2 separate regions of the Homo sapiens genome follow, and region 2 is linked to region 1. A link means that fine-mapping ties the variant in region 1 to the expression of a gene that starts in the linked region. Tissue or cell type: whole blood. Region 1 holds a variant in brackets; the other region holds the start of a gene. All regions are shown on one strand. Distances are between the middles of the regions.

Evidence for each region. PIP is the estimated chance that this variant, and not a neighbour inherited with it, causes the effect.
Region 2: it holds the start of AQP3, and the variant in region 1 is fine-mapped to the expression of AQP3 in whole blood (TOPMed, PIP above 0.99).

The regions. Positions count from the first base shown.
Region 1 is chr9:33,511,124-33,519,228 of GRCh38, reverse strand. It overlaps the pseudogene SUGT1P1 and the pseudogene VN1R47P. Among named protein-coding and RNA genes, the nearest start is that of ANKRD18B, 9.1 kb to the left of the region's middle. The variant C/T (reference allele first, on the strand shown) is at 3,943.
Region 2 is chr9:33,442,930-33,451,018 of GRCh38, reverse strand. AQP3 (aquaporin 3 (Gill blood group)) reads left to right here and starts at 3,426. Exons shown (of 6, transcript NM_004925.5): 1 at 3,426-3,596; 2 at 7,127-7,253; 3 at 7,561-7,698; 4 at 8,049-8,089. The coding sequence starts at 3,489. RefSeq lists a silencer at 3,251-3,440 and an enhancer at 7,074-8,089.

The DNA.
Region 1 (8,105 bases):
ATGGAATTCATGGGTTAAGGCATCTAGCACTACACTCTTCTTCAGGGGGAATATATTTAATTACTAATTCAATTTTTTTTTACTTTATATACATCTATTAAGATTTTCTATTTGTTCTTTAGTCAATTTTGCTACTTAATGTCTTTATCGGAATTTGCTTATTTCATTTATGTTGCTAAACTTGTTGACATTTGTTGTTCCTCATAATATCTTAAATTCCTTTAAAATTTCTGTTGAATCTGTTGTGAGGTTCTATCTTTCATTCTTTTTTTTTTTTTCTCAGACAGAGTCTTGCTCTTGTCACCCAGGCTGGATCCAGCATCCTGCTACTGGATATATAGATAAAAGAGAAATATTATATCTTTGAGATATGGAATCAACCTAAGTGCTGCTCTAAGCATACAAGTGCAGATATCTTTTTTATATAGTATGTCTCCTTTATGTATATATTCAGTAGCAGGATTGCTGTATTCCATATCTTTATGATAGCAAAGATATGAAATCAATCTAAGTGTCCATCAATAGATGATTGGCTAAAGAAAATGTGGTATGCATACAGTGGAATACTATTCAGCCATAAAAACAACAAAATCCACAATATTCTCATGTAACAAATCTGCACATGTATCCCTATGTCTAAAATAAACTTCAAAATTTTAAAAAGAATGAAATTATGTCTTTTGCAGCAACATGGATGGAAATGAAGGTCATTATCTTAAGTAAAATAACAGAAACAGAAAGTCAAATACTGCATGTTCTCACTTATAAATAGGAGCTAAATAACACATACTCATGGACACAGAGTGGAATAATAGTCATTGGAGGCTCAGAAGGGTGTGTGAGTCAGAGGGGTGAGGGTTGAGAAATTTCATAGTGGATATAATGTGCACTCTTCAGGGAATGTTTACACTACGAGTCCAGACTTCACCACTACCCAGTATGTTCGTGTAACAAAACTACACTCGTACCCCTTAAATTTATACAAATACAAATTAAAACATGCATCAGAGAGGACCTTAATTTTTTTCTCTTTTTCTCTTTCTTTCTTTCTTCTTTTTGACAGAGTTTTGCTCTTGTCACCCAGGCTGGAGTGCAGTGGTGTGATCTCAGCTCACTGCAACCTCTGCCTCCCGGATTCAAGTGATTCTCCTGCCTCAGCCTCGAGAGTAGCTGGGATTCCAGGCCTGAGCCGCCACTAGTAGAGTTGGGGTTTTAACATGTTGGCCAGGCTGGTCTTGAACTCCTGACCTCAGATGATCTGCCTGCCTTGGCCTCCCAAAGTGCTGGGATTACAGGCGTGAGTCACTGCGCCTGGCCAAAATCAGTTATCAATTAATTTTTAAACATGTAACTAGCAGGGGTCCCAGTAGTGGGGGGACCATTATTGCATGCTTTGAAATTTGAGGGTCCCATTCTGCTTATTAATCTCTAGGGAGCAAAAAACAAAACAAAAAAAACAGAACAAACCAAAAAACTCTACGATGCCTATCAGGGAATGTTTAAGATTTGTACCAGTGTTCTGTGTTACAATGTGTTTGACACAGAATTTTGTTTTACTTGATGGGCAGGCTGTGATCTAATTGCCTAGTTGTGACCAATTTTTCCCTAGATGCATAAATTTTTTTCTGAGACTAGCTGACCACTAGGGGTCACCTTGCCTGCCTGTGTACTGGTTAATTAATCCTTACCCAACAGACTTTTCCTTCCAAGACTTTTTCTTCCAAGACTGTCCTAATAGCTTTTTAATTTTTTTTGTTTGTTTGTTTTTGCTTTTGTTTTTTAGACAGAATCTTGCTCTGTTGCTCAGGGTGGAGTGCAATGGCATAATCTCGGCTTACTGCAACCTCTACCTCCCAGATTCAAGTAATTCTCCTGTCTCAGCCTCCTGAGGAGCTGGGACTACAGGCGTGCCCACCATGCCCAACTAATTTTTGTATTTTTTCTAGAGAAGGGGTTTTCCCATGTTGGTCAGACTGGTCTGGAACTCCTGACCTCAGGTGTTCCACCCGCCTCGGCCTTCCAAAGTGCTGTAATTGCAGGCATGAGCCACCACACCTGGCCCCTAATGGCTTCGAAAGGGTTGACTCAGGCCCACCTCTATAGAAAGTAGATTTTGCTTTCAAGAAACATTTAGGGCCAGGTGCAGTGGCTCATGCATGTAATTTGGGAGGCTGAGGCAGTAGGATCCACTGAGGCCGGGAGTTCAGGACTGGCCTGGGCTACATAGTGAGACCCTGTCTCTACGAGATACAAAAAAAAAACAAAAAATTAGCCGGGTGTGCTGGCATGTGCCTATAGTCCCAGCTGCTGGGGAGGCTGTGGTGAGAGGATCACTTGAGCCCAGGAGGCCGAGGCTACAGTGAACTATGATTGCACCACTGCACTCTTGCCAGGGTGACAGAGCAAGACCCTGTCTAAAAATATGTATATATTTTACACTAGTTCCTTATCAATTTTTTAAATATGATTTTCTGCATAATCCTGGCAATGTCTTTTTTTAAATCTATGAACATGAACACATAACATTCTGATTGATTCTGTTAACATAATTTATTACATTAATGGATTTCCAAGTGTTGACTCTCACTTGCATTTCTGGCACAAAAGGCAGTGGGATTATGATGTAATGTTGCAATGTGCTCACACAGTGGCTTCTAGTGCTGACACAATGGCTTCTAATATTTAAAAAGTCTACATTTATATTCACATGTCCTATACTTTTGTAATACATGGCTCAAACCAGGGTAAGATCTCATATCACCTTTATGCACCCTTCCTGAAAACTATTGGGAAGATTGACTAAGACTTGAATAGTTTAGGTAGCGTCAGGTTATCAGTTAGTTTACTAGTAGAATTTCTCTCTGGATCATATGAACTTGGTGCTTCTGTGTATTTGAGGGACTCTGATAAATGTCTCTTTTTCTTTTATAAATATTGTACAATTTAGAATCTCTATCTCTCTAGGGGTAAACGTTAATAAAATATATATTTATAGAATATATAACATCTACATTTGATTAATTTACATTGGAATGCCCAACATTGTTCCCATTTATTTTTCATATCAGTATTTGACTTCAAGTTGCTGTTTGCACTGTAATCTGTTCACATATCCTTCTCAAGTTCCTCGCATGATCCCGTCTCTCCGTTCACAGTGAAATAATAGTTTGGCTCAGGAATCTGAGGATTAACAGAAAATTGGGTTTTCTGTAGGGGACCATCTCAGGAAAGCACAGACTCCAGTAAAACATGTGCACTCTGCTGCCAGCCCCTAGTCTAGACTCACCCCTTCCTGCTCCCTCCCTAGGAGCCCCTTCCTGTTGCCTCCAGGGATTATGGAAAGCAACAGCCTCTGCCAAACACTCTCATCTTGCTAGAGATGCCCACTAGAATGTGGGGAAAAGAAAGAGAGATCAGACTGTTACTGTGTCTATGTAGAAAGAAGTAGACATAAGAGACTCCATTTTGTTCTGTACTAAGAAAAATTCTTCTGCCTTGAGATGCTGTTAAATCTGTAACCCTAGCCCCAACCCTGTGCTTGCAGAGACATGTGCTGTGTTGACTCAAGGTTTAATGGATTTAGGGCTATGCAGGATGTGCTTTGTTAAACAAGTGCTTGAAGGCAGTATGCTTGTTAAAAGTCATCACTACTCTCTAATCTCAAGTACCCAGGGACACAATACACTGTGGAAGGCTGCAGGGGCCTCTGCCTAGGAAAGCCAGGTATTGTCCAAGGTTTCTCCCCATGTGATAACCTGAGACATGGCCTCGTGGGAAGGGAAAGACCTGACCATCCCCCAGCCCAACACCCGTAAAGGGTCTGTGCTGAGGAGGATTAGTGAAAGAGGAAGGCCTCTTTGCAGTTGAGACAAGAGGAAGGCATCTGTCTCCTGCTCGTCCCTGGGCAATGGAATGTCTCGGTGTAAAACCCGATTGTATGTT[C/T]CATCTACTGAGATAGGAGAAAACCACCTTAGGGCTGGAGATGAGACATGCTGGTGGCAATACTGCTCTTTAATGCACCGAGATGTTTGTGTATGTGCACATCAAAGCACAGCACCTTTTCTTAACCTTGCTCATGACACAGAGACCTTTGTTCACATGTTTTCCTGCTGACCCTCTCCCCACTATTACCCTATTGTCCTGCCACATCCACCTCTCCGAGATGGTAGAGATAATGATCAATACATACTGAGGGAACTCAGAGACTGGTGCTGGCACGGGTCCTCCGTATGCTGAGTGCTGGTCCCCTGGGCCCACGTTTCTTTCTCTATACTTTGTCTCTGTGTCTCTTTCTTTTCTCAGTCTCTCGTTCCATCGGATGAGAAACAACCACAGGTGTGGAGGGGCTGGCCCCCTTCACAGAAAATTGTACTTGTTTTTGGTAATTGGTAACTGGGACAAAGTTTATTGAAATATCTTTAGCTCCCCAAATGTGCACTGTCATTGTTGCCACAGGTGAACTGCTCATTGCAGTGATGTGAAAAGGTGAGGTCACAGGACACAAACCCATATCTGAGACCTGGATGCCTCCCTCCACGCACTCACCCACTGGCTGTCCTGAGCATCACCCTGCACCTGTTGTCCCAGCAACAAGGGAAAAATAAGGTGAGTATTTTCCATTTCAGTCTAGAAGGCATAGCCTGCAAGGGAAGGAAGTGTGCTGGGAGATGGAGCAGGGCTTTTGTCTGGAAAACAGGATTCTGGTCTAGAAACTAAGTCAGTGCCAATGCAATGCAGGGAAGGGGAAATCATCACTGGGTCATGGGCTGCACTCGTGGAGAAGGAATGGAGGTCAAGACCATAAACCAGCCCCTAACTGCTTCTCATTTAATGTAATCCTCACTGTTCATCATTGTTGGTTTGAATAAAGTCATGAAATCTTTTTTTTTTTTTTTTGAGACAGGTCTATTGCTCAGGCTGGAGTGAAGTGGTGCAATTGTGGCTCACTGCAGCCTTGAATACCTCAGCTCAAACGATCCTCCCACCTCAGCCTCCTGAGTAGCTGGGACCACAGGCATGTGCCACCACACTCAGCACACTTAAAAAAAATTTTTGTAGAGACAGGTTCTCCCTATGTTGCTCAGGCTGGTCTCCTGGCCTCAAGCAATCCTCTTGCTTCAGCCTCCCAAAGTGTTGGGATTATAGGCATAAGCCATTCACACCCAGCCTATTTTTAAGTTCTCTAATATAATTTGGAAATTAATTTGCCAGCTGCCCTGTCTTATCTGCATGAACATTTCCAAGATTTGTAGAGGTGTTTCTATGACACCTCCATGCCTGTGATCATGTATAAGATGTAGCTGATTGAATTACCTTATTCTGTTCAGAAATAGTAAATATAGTGTTTTCACCAACTCTGTGCACAGAATATACCAAATGGAGACCATAAGTGTGTCATGACAGAAAAAATCTATTGTCTCTTTATTATGGTGAGACTCCTTTCCCTCATGAAATCAGCAAAGAAAAGTAAATGAATTTAGCTTTTTGTGTTAGAAAAAAACATTATGCTCTTCAGCGGTTTTCAGAATTGCATTATTTTTGATCTTTCCTCTTGTTTAAGAATGTTTTCATGTCATCCCCAGGCTCAGTGCTCATGTTGGTACTATTTTGGGTCAATGTATAATCATTACCTCCAGTTTTTCTTGTGCATAATGGACTTGAGTTTTAATATAGTGAACCATCCTGACATTGAAATACTGTATTTGATATTTTCATATTCACAAGTCCTCATTTTCTTTCTACACTCATGGTAATTTAGTTTCTCCTCTGCAGTGTTTTCCCTCCTACTTGTTTTCCTGCTCCCTTGCTTAGCACATGGTCATTCCATTATGCCCTCCTTCTTGGTTAAGATGGAAAAGAACCTCCTCTTTTAATTCCATTTGTGCATTTAAGAAATTCCATTTGGTTGTATATAATTATTCTTCTAAGATTATGCTAAGATCAGCACATCTATATTTTACTTGGATCTCTGATCACTATAGATGATATTTGCCTATAAAACAAGCATTGGTGTTTTCAATCACAATCAAAAAGAAAAAATTCAAAACGATTCTTTTAAAAACTCACAAGAGATACAAAAATATTTTTTAAATACATGGATTGTCTTAAAAATTATTTCTCTCTGTTGCTATGACAGCATAGTGGTCAAGTCCATTGTCAGCTTCTGACACTGCCTCTTACAAGGAGGTGACTTTGGAAATGTCATTCAGCCTTCCTGTGCCCGAAATCACCTCACCTGTCAAATGGGAACAATAAAGCACTTCAAAGAATTGTTGTAAAAGTTCTATGTAAAACACTGTTACAGCACTCTTATGCTGGGAATATATATCTATACACACATATATTTTTATAGCGAAACTCTCAGGAAGAGGAAAATGAAGTTTAATAGGAAATTAATGGCTTGAAAACAATGGTACATGGAAAAGAGTGGCTTTCAGTTGCCATAGTACAACAGGCCTCTTGTTTTCACGCCAGATCCTCTCACTCTGAATAGGATGATCAGTCATTGAAAAAAGAAAAATGGCCTCCAGGGATGTGGCAATAGGAATGATCTTCTTATCTCAGACCACAGTAGGATTCCTGGGCAATTGCTTTGTTCTTCACCATTATAGTTATTTATTTCACCAGATGCACATTAAGGTCCACAGATCTGATTCTGCAGCACCTGACTGTAGCCAACTCCTTGGTCATTCTCTCTAAAAAATGCTCCTATCCTTGTCAATGCTTGGTATTGGAAATCCTTTTAATTTAAGTCATTCTGGTGGTAGTTTTATTATCTCATTATAATTTCAATGTCCACGATACAGCTATTTTTTTTTTTTTTTTGAGACAGAGTCTGACTCTGTTGCCCAGGCTGGAGTGCAGTGGTGCCATCTCGCTCACTGCAACCTCTGCCTCCCAGGTTCAAGTGTTTCCTGTGCCTTGGCCTCCTTAGTAGCTGGGATTATAGGTGTGCACCACCAAGCCCAGGTAATTTTTGTATTTTTAGTAGAGATGGGGTTTTGTCATGTTGCCCAGGCTGGTCTCCAACTCCTGGCCTCAAGGGATCCACCCGCCTCGACCTCCCAAAGTGTTGAGATTACAGGCATGAGCCACTGTGCTCAGCCATGACATAGCTATTAATATAGAACTTTTCATGTGGGCCTATAGGTCAATCTAGGAATTTGCCCTTTCAGAGGCTATTCATATTTATATGCATATTGGTGCATGGCAGGGGTTGGTGTATACACCTTGGTGTATGGCTGAGCCATAAATGGAGCATACCTGAGAATAACCCTATTCTAAGTGTGTTTGGAGTCCCAGGCTAAGGAATCCAGGAGTAGCCAACACTGAGATTCACTACTTACCTATGAAGGACAGCCATACCCCTGCCCCATCCCTTGGAACACAGCCTGTACAGGTGATCAAGGCCCTTTATTTTGGGTTAAATGGAGACTGCTAGAAGGAGGGTTCTAAGTGAAAATGCGATATGCTATATGGACTACATGCTTTTTTTTTTTTATACAAACGGTAGCGTTTCTCCAGGCCAGCCCACCACCACTGGACCACCCCTGTATGTAACTCCTGAATAAACGTTATGTTTCCTTCACTGGTTCTGCCTCTCCTATAGTGTCATCCCAATCGGAATCAATGGGGATCCGGAAGGACAACCGGCCATTTAGATAACATTTGAAAATTAACCAATGTAATTGGTCACATTGTAACATTATTATTAAAATATTATTTTAAAATTATTATTATATAACAGTAACATATTATTATTAAAAATACATATGAACATTTCAATAAAGGTAGAAAAAGCACTTGATATTGAATGCTTTCCTCTTGATTTTACAACCAAGACAAGGAAGTCCATTATCACTATTTCTATTCAATAGTGGACATACTAGCCAGCAACAAAACTAAAAGGTATAAAGATTACAGGAAAGTTAAACCATCTCTATTCACAGACTGCAAGATTGTAATCACATAAATTCCAAAAGACTCTACAGACTCTACAGTCCCACGGCAGCCCCTTCCTCCGCGCCGCGGCGGCGCCTCCGGCCCACGTCACGCTCGCGCCATTGTTTCCCAGCCGCTGCTCGCTGGGACCCCGCCAGCCCTCG
Region 2 (8,089 bases), 68 kb after region 1:
GGCAGCATGGCAGGGGTGCTCTACCACTCCCATAGCCTGTGATCTGGGCCCTGGCACCAGGAGTCTATGGTTCTGTCTTGAGTCACAGGCTGGCAGTGGGGCCAGAGGGCAGGTACTCAGTGATGGCTCCCTGATTCACCACGGGGCCTCCCAGCCTATAGAGGCCTGGAGGGTAGGGTGCATCTTTCTGGGTCAAGGGTCATTAGAGTCCTCATGTGGGGGTTCTATATATGTGTGAGCCCATGGCGAGGCTCTCATGTGAATGGGATCCCTGATCATGGGAGCAGAGCTCAGTGTCTATAGGCAAGTGTGTGACTGCAAACCACAGGGTGTGTGTGTGTGTCTGTGTGTTTGTGTGTGTGTATGCGCAAGCACCTGCATGTATGTGAATCTACTTCATGTGTATGCTAAACCCATCTCTTTGGGCATGAACCACCTCTGGGACTGGGAGCCCTTATTTCCTTTCTTTTCTTTTCTTTTTTAACATGCCTATCTAGGCCAGGTACGGTGAATCATGCCTGTAATCCCAGCACTTTGGGAGGCCGAGACGGGTGGATCACCTGAGGTCAGGAGTTCGAGACCAGCCTGGCCAACGTGGTGAAACCCCGTCTCTACTAAAAAAAACAAAAAACAAAAAACAAAAAAATTGGCTGGACATGGTGGTGCATGCCTGTAATCCCAGCTACTCGGGAAGCTGAAGCAGGAGAATCGCTTGAACCCAGGTGGGGTGATCTTGGCTCACTGCAACCTCTGCCTCCTGGGTTCAAGTGATCCTCCTGTCTCAGCCTCCCGAGTAGCTGGGATTACAGGCATGTGGCAGAGGTGGTTGATGCCCAAAGAGATGGGTTTAGCAATACTCATAATCCTACAATCCAAGCACTCTAGGAGGCCAAGGTGGGCAAATTGCTTGAGCTCGGGAGTTCCAGACCAGCCTGGCCAACATGGCGAAACCCCTTCTCTACAAACAATACAAAAATTAGCCGGGCATCGTGATGCATGCCTGTAGTCCCAGCTATTTGAGAGGCTGAGGTGGGAGGATTGTTTGATCCCATGAGCTAGAGGCTGGAGTGAGTCATCATCCATGTTTTTAAGAGCTTGTTTAGCTTCTTCTGCTACCTCTCCTGACACAACCTGTCCACTTGAAGGGTCCATGCCTATCTGTCCTGAAATGTCAATGGTCCTGTCACCTAACATAGTTTGACTGTAGGTCCCAGTGGCCCCTGGGGCTTTCTTGGTGCTGATCACATTTCTGATCAAGGACGACAGGACTAACCCTTCTCTCTTTTGGTCCCTCTGGGAGAAGAACCTCTGCACTAGCCCTGCTCGCTTCTCAATGAACCGTGGGAGCCCTTTTTTTTTTTTTTTTTTTTGAGATGGAGTTTGGCTCTTGTTGCCCAGGCTGGAGTGCAATGGCATGATCTCAGGTCACTGCAACTTCCGCCTCCTGGGTTCAAGTGATTCTCCTGCCTCAGCCTCCCGAACAGCTGAGATTACAGGCACCCGCCATCACGCCCGGCTAATTTTTGGTATTTTTAGTAGAGACAGGGTTTCACCATGTTGGTCAGTGTGGTCTTGAACTCCTGACCTCAGGTGATCTGCCCGCCTCGGCCTCCCAAAGTGCTGGGATTATAGGCGTGAGCCACCACGCCCAGCCGGGGGCCCTTATTTCTCATATTCGTCCCTCAAGGGACAAGTCCTCAGGGTCATTAGCCCACCTGGATTAAGTCCCTCTGGAAAATGATTTCTTTGATCTCCTCTGGCAATGCTGCCATAGAAGCTCAGCCTAAGGGCATGTTGTTTGCTCCCAGGCCACCAGATGTTTCCTTGTTATTAAAAGCAGCATAGAGGGCAAGGTTGCACTTCGGGAGGCCGAGGTGGGAGGATCGTTTAAAGCCAGGAGTTTGAGACTAACCTGGGCAACATAGCAAGACCTCATTTTTACAACAGATTTTTAAAAATTAGCTGAGTGTCATGGTGGCACATAGTCCCTATAGTCCCATCCATTCTGGAGGCTGAGGTGGGAGGATCACTTGGGCCCAGGAGTTCGAGGCTACAGTGAGCTGTGATTGCACCACAGCCTGGGTGATGGAGCAAGACCCTACTCTTTAAAAAGAGAGAGAGGGCAAGGTTGTCCCATGATCCCCCTCAGATAGGGCTGACTCCCCCATAATTAAGTTTGCTTAAAGAGGCAGACTTGCTGGGCTCAGTGGCTCACGCCTGTAATCCCAGCACTTTGGGAGGCTGAGGCGGGTGGATAACTTGTGGTCAGGAGTTCGAAATCAGCCTGGTCAACATGGTGAATCCCCATCTCCACTAAAAAAACAAAAATTAGCTGGGCATGGTGGTGTGCACCTGTAATCCCAGCTAATCGGGAGGCTGAAGCAGGAGAATCACTTGAACCTGGGAGGTGGAGGTTGCAGGGAGCCGAGATCACGCCATTGCACTCCACCTAGGCGACAGAGAGAGACTCCGTCTAAAAAAAAAAAAGAGACAGACTCTTCCTTGGCTGGGGGTAAGTCAGATGGGAGAGGAGAGGGTTAAAAACAGCTGGGACTCAGCCTGCTGGCAAACATGTGGCATGTGGCATGTCGGGGCAACTGCAGCTCAGCCTCTGGAGCCATGTGAGCAATGCACGCAGGTACACGTGTGACAAGCTAGGTCACCTAGCCATGTTCAACAGGCATGTGCACAGCCACGAGGAATGCCCAGCCGTACAATTAGGCACACAGGACATCCGCCATGTGTAGACACAGCTGTGGACATAGCTGGCCAGGACATGCGACACACGACGTGCTCATAGCACAGGGAGAAGGGCCCATGAAGTCTGGTTGGAACTCAGCACGTGTGTCTGTGTGCCCACCTGAGTCTGGACTGCTGCCCCTCTGACACTAGCTGTCCCCTTGAAGGGTCGGTGCCTTATCTGTCCTGACAGAAGAGACAGTGTTGCTTCTCACTTGGGGCTCGCAGCCTCCTCCTCCTGCCTCGAACTGAGGATCTGTTGGGTCCAGTCATCCTGGAGAGATGCGGCCAGTTTCTTTCTGACAGGTCTCCTCCTGCCCGCAAGGAAGTGGGGTGATCACAGGGCGCAGGTGGTCTCTATGACAGCTGCATCCTCTCCAGCCATGGCCCTGAACCCTGCCTATAATCCCACCATTGGCTCTCAGATCTGCCTAAGCCTCTCAGCCCCCTTGACGTCCCCTCCCTTAAGCGCCCTCCGAAGGCCACCCGTCCCTCAAAGCTCCTCACACTCCATGCCCGCAGCTCCCTCCACCCGGCGTCCGCACCAGCCTCCCAGCCGAGGTGGGGCGGGGGCGAGGGGGCGCGCACTCCTCGGCGCTCCGGGACTGCAGGGCGGGGCTGCAGGGCGGGCGGGGCCCGTGTCTCCAGCGCTCCTATAAAGGGAGCCACCAGCGCTGGAGGCCGCTGCTCGCTGCGCCACCGCCTCCCGCCACCCCTGCCCGCCCGACAGCGCCGCCGCCTGCCCCGCCATGGGTCGACAGAAGGAGCTGGTGTCCCGCTGCGGGGAGATGCTCCACATCCGCTACCGGCTGCTCCGACAGGCGCTGGCCGAGTGCCTGGGGACCCTCATCCTGGTGGTGAGTGGAGGGAGCCGGGGAAGCCCTTCTCTCTCCAGCCCTTGCACTCCCCAAACTCTCACTTCCCCGAAGGGGCTGTGTTTTCCAAGGTAGCCTGGACCCACCTCCCCAGCTGTGACCCCCACGCTTAACCGCGGAGGATCAAGCTGACTTCCAAAGTCCTCTTCCCCACGGTTCTAACCCCCTCTCTGACAGCTCCGACTCTTGCCAGAATGACAGCTGTTACTCCCCAGTGATAGTGCCGATCGTTTACCCTCCCACAAGTGACTCAGCCAACAGGCTGGGGGCAGCGGTCACGCTTGCAGTCTGGGACAGCCAGCCACTTCCCCTGCCTCCCACACCCCTCCAGATTCCCAGAATCCCAGCCCCCAGATGTAGGGGAGGGGGCGGAGGCAAATGAGCCATTATTAGGTTATTTGGGTCCTGGGTGTCTGGCCTCTAATGAATAATTAAGCCTCAAAAAGTCCAAAGGTTGAAGTGAGTGAGGACAGTTTGCACGAGTGGGGGCAGAGGGTGCAGGCCACATGGGCTGCGAACAGCGAAGTGGGAAGGGAGGCAGATTCTGACGGTAGAAGGGTGGGAGGAAGCTAGGCCCAGGCACAGAGGACGCGTGTCTAAAGTTGCTCACCTGGTGCTCAGCGACTCCCAGGCCCTGTCTGTTATCCAGACAGATGCTGTCAGCGTCTGTGCAGAAGACGACAAGCATTCTGGTTACTCCCTGGCCTCTTGGTTACTCTGTGGGTTCTCTGAGTGAGCATTTCCCTGCCTGAGTTACTCCTCAGTCCTAGTTACTCCTTGGTCACACCAGTTTCACCCTGGTTTTGTTCTGAGTGACTCTGTTTGCACTTCTTAGGTCTGGCAGACCCACCAGTTATGTTCTATTTCCTGTCCCAGTTACTCTGATTTTTCAGCCGCTCATGTGGTTACACCTGTTTTCCTCTGTGTTCAGTTGCTACATTGCAGTGAGTGGGTTACTCCGTTCCTGCCCCAGCCCTGGGTAGTACAGACCAGCTGGCCCACTGTGGACTAGGAAGCCTAACTAAGGGCAAGTAGGGATCCCCAAATGGTTGAGGATCAGGATCTATGGGCAGAGGAGGGCTGAAACCCACTTCTGGCTTCCAAGAATAGGAAGTGGGGAAGCCACAGGGGGCATTTTATCCACAGCCTCCCATAAGATTAGTCGTCCTATCAGCCAGCCCTAGCCCCTCTCTCCTGTGCCAAGAAGGCAATAGGAGGTGGCCTTTATCACTCTCCTGCCTCGGAGCCCTCACTCCTATCGGAGTCCTGAGTCCAGCCACCTGTTTTAGAGCAGCCAGGCTAGGGGAGGATGATGTCTTCTATTTTCCTAGAGGGGCCTCCTCATTCCCTCCCAAGTCTCAGTTCACTCTCTCACAAAGGAGCCGTTAGTCCTCCCACTGAGCCCCAGGATCATCAGGCTTATCCCAGACCACAAAAGAAGAGTGTTAAATTTTAGGGGAAGGGTTGCAGACTCAGATGGATGTGAGGTATTGGATATCAGTGAGAAGCAGAACTTCAAGGACTGCATGAACTGGAGGGGCAGGCCTGGGGATCCCTTTGTAGTGGGTGAGTGCCTGCCTGCCTACCTGCGTGTTGGGAGCCTAGGCCTGCAGTGGCAGAATCAGGGTTGGCTTTGGGGTGAGGAAAGCCCCTTTCTCTGAGATACCTGGTGTGAGGGCAGGGGGCGGTGCTGGCCGAGAACTCAGGGCAGGGGTTGGGGGAGGAAGAGGAAGATTAGCCCCAAGGTGGTGGAACTGGCTCTGACAGCTCCTCCCTCCAAGGCGTCCTGGGATGGAGCCAGGTCTGAGCCTTTGGCAGGCAAGGAGCTGCTGCCAGGGCCTCCCAAGCAGGGCAGGGCGCCTCAGACCCTCACGTGCCTGTCTCCCACCACCCCTCCTCACACATACACCTGCAATCTCTGATCTTTGCTCTCACCTGCCTGCACACCTTTGCCCCATGTCATTGCCGCTGGCTTCTCCGTTATCTCTTGGTCTTTCTGGGATGATAATCAAAATGCTTAACTATCCAGTACAACAGGCACTGACCCGTCAGAATAAACAAGGTCTGTAGCACAGGTCCTGGAAACTGCCTGCTCTGTGGGCATAAAACCTTTAGTTATGGGCAGGTGGGAGAGGAGACCAGGGCAAGGCATTGGAGCAGCTTTGAGGGACACTCAGGGGGCTCAGGGCAACAATGCTTTACAGCTGCTGCAGAAGTATTTTCAGGCTTGAACAAGGGGAACAGACATAGTACGTTCTTTTTCTTTTTTAAATAGAGACAAAGTCTCACTATGTTGCCCAGGCTGTTCTCAAACTCCTGGGTTCAAGATCCTCCCATCTCAGCCTCCAAAGTGCTGGGATTACAGGTGTGAGCCACCACAGCTGGCTCCAGTATGTTCTATATTTGTAGAACACCAGGGCTCTTAGTCTCTTTTAGTTCCCCCATTTTTGGCAGAAAGTTTAGAACCGATCTCCCCATTTCTACAGCCCTGGGTCCCGGGCTGGGGATAGTGAGAGGAGCCACACAGATCCCTGTCTGTAGGACCTCCAAATCTGAGTGGGGAATCTGGACCCCTGAGAGCAGAGAGGTCATGGGTGGAGAGAGGAGACGCTGGGACAGGGACAGGTAAAGGAAGGGGAGGTTGTTGAGGGGGACATGGTGAAGGCTGGGGCTCTGGCATCCTGGACTCAGGAGAAGTGGATTCAACCTCACTTCTGGTCTCCTCCCTATTTATTTATGCCGCCCATTGCCACCACTACCACCACCACATGAGCTTTTCTTTTCAACTCTTTTTTTTTTTTTTTTGAGATGGAGTCCCGCTCTGTCGCCCAGGCTGAAGTGCAGTGGCGCAATCTTGGCTCACTGCAACATCTGCCTCCCATTTTCAAGTGATTCTCCTGCCTCAGCCTCCCGAGTAGCTGGGATTACAGGCACCTGCCACCACGCCTGGCTAATTTTTGTACTTTTAGTAGAGATGGGGTTTCACTATGTTGGCCAGGCTGGTCTCAAACTCCTGACCTCAGGTGATCCACCCACCTCGGCCTACCAAAGTGCTGGGATTACAGTGTGAGCCACTGCACCGGGCCTACATGAGCTTTTCTTTGGGGCAGCTGGGGGATGAGTGAGAGGCTTCCCACCTTTATGGTCCAGGCCTGAAGGGCTGTGGAGAAACTTGTGCTAAGGTGAAAGCTGTTCCCCTACACCTACGCCTGCTGAAATTCAAGGAAAATCAGTGAAGATGGTTCAGTCATCTTCTAGGATCCCAGTCGCAGACCCTGCTTCCAGCCCTTTCCATAGGGCCCTCTCATATTAGAGTTGGGACAGTGGGGTGGGAAGGCATGTGTCCTTTTTCTGGAAAGTGCAATTACAGCAGAAGGGGTTTGGGCTGGGTTCCAGGAAGCGCCTCTAGTCCTCCCAGTGGTGGCGAGTGGGCATGTTGCTGGCTTCACCCCTTCCTTCTGGAGTGAGAGTTGCTGGTCCTCACCCTCCCTGCCTGTTCTTCTTCCTGACAGATGTTTGGCTGTGGCTCCGTGGCCCAGGTTGTGCTCAGCCGGGGCACCCACGGTGGTTTCCTCACCATCAACCTGGCCTTTGGCTTTGCTGTCACTCTGGGCATCCTCATCGCTGGCCAGGTCTCTGGTAAGGCCTTAACCCTGCCCCCAGCCCTTGGCCCTCAATAGCATTCCCACTAGGTGTCCTGGCATTCCTAAGGGCAGGTCACAGCTGTGGCCTCTGCTTTGGCCCCTTGGGAAAGGAGGGTGGAGAAGAAACTTGACACTTAGAACTTTCGACTCTCACCTTGGAATCAGAGATTATCAGCTGACCTGTTACATAGACCAACCGCCATCCTGTGCAAGAAACCCCTCTCTGCACCCCTTCTCAGGGGACCCTAGCCTGCCGACTGTGGCAGGCTGCAGCTAATAGGTCCCTTGTCCCCTCTGCCCAGGGGCCCACCTGAACCCTGCCGTGACCTTTGCCATGTGCTTCCTGGCTCGTGAGCCCTGGATCAAGCTGCCCATCTACACCCTGGCACAGACGCTGGGAGCCTTCTTGGGTGCTGGAATAGTTTTTGGGCTGTATTATGGTAAGCATTCCCCACCCTGTCCTCCTCCACTACCCCCGTCCCTCTGTTCAGGACCTGCTGGCACCAGGCCTTTTGATGACAGACGGCTAGGACCTGCCCAGGCCCCGGGCTCATGACTCACTCATTCACGCACAGGGTCAAGGTAGGGGGCACGAAGGGAAAGAAACAAGTTGGGCAATAACAGAGTCTCAGGCCCTCCACCCCACCCCACGCCACCCCCTCTGCCTGCTGCAATACAGCAGTATTGCTACTTACCCATAACTCATGGGAGGGTGGGGAGGGCACACCTGAGAGGGAAGTCTGGGCTCAGGCCTCTCCCCCGACTCACTGTGTGTCTAATCTGTCACCAGATGCAATCTGGCACTTCGCCGACAACCAGCTTTTTGTTTCG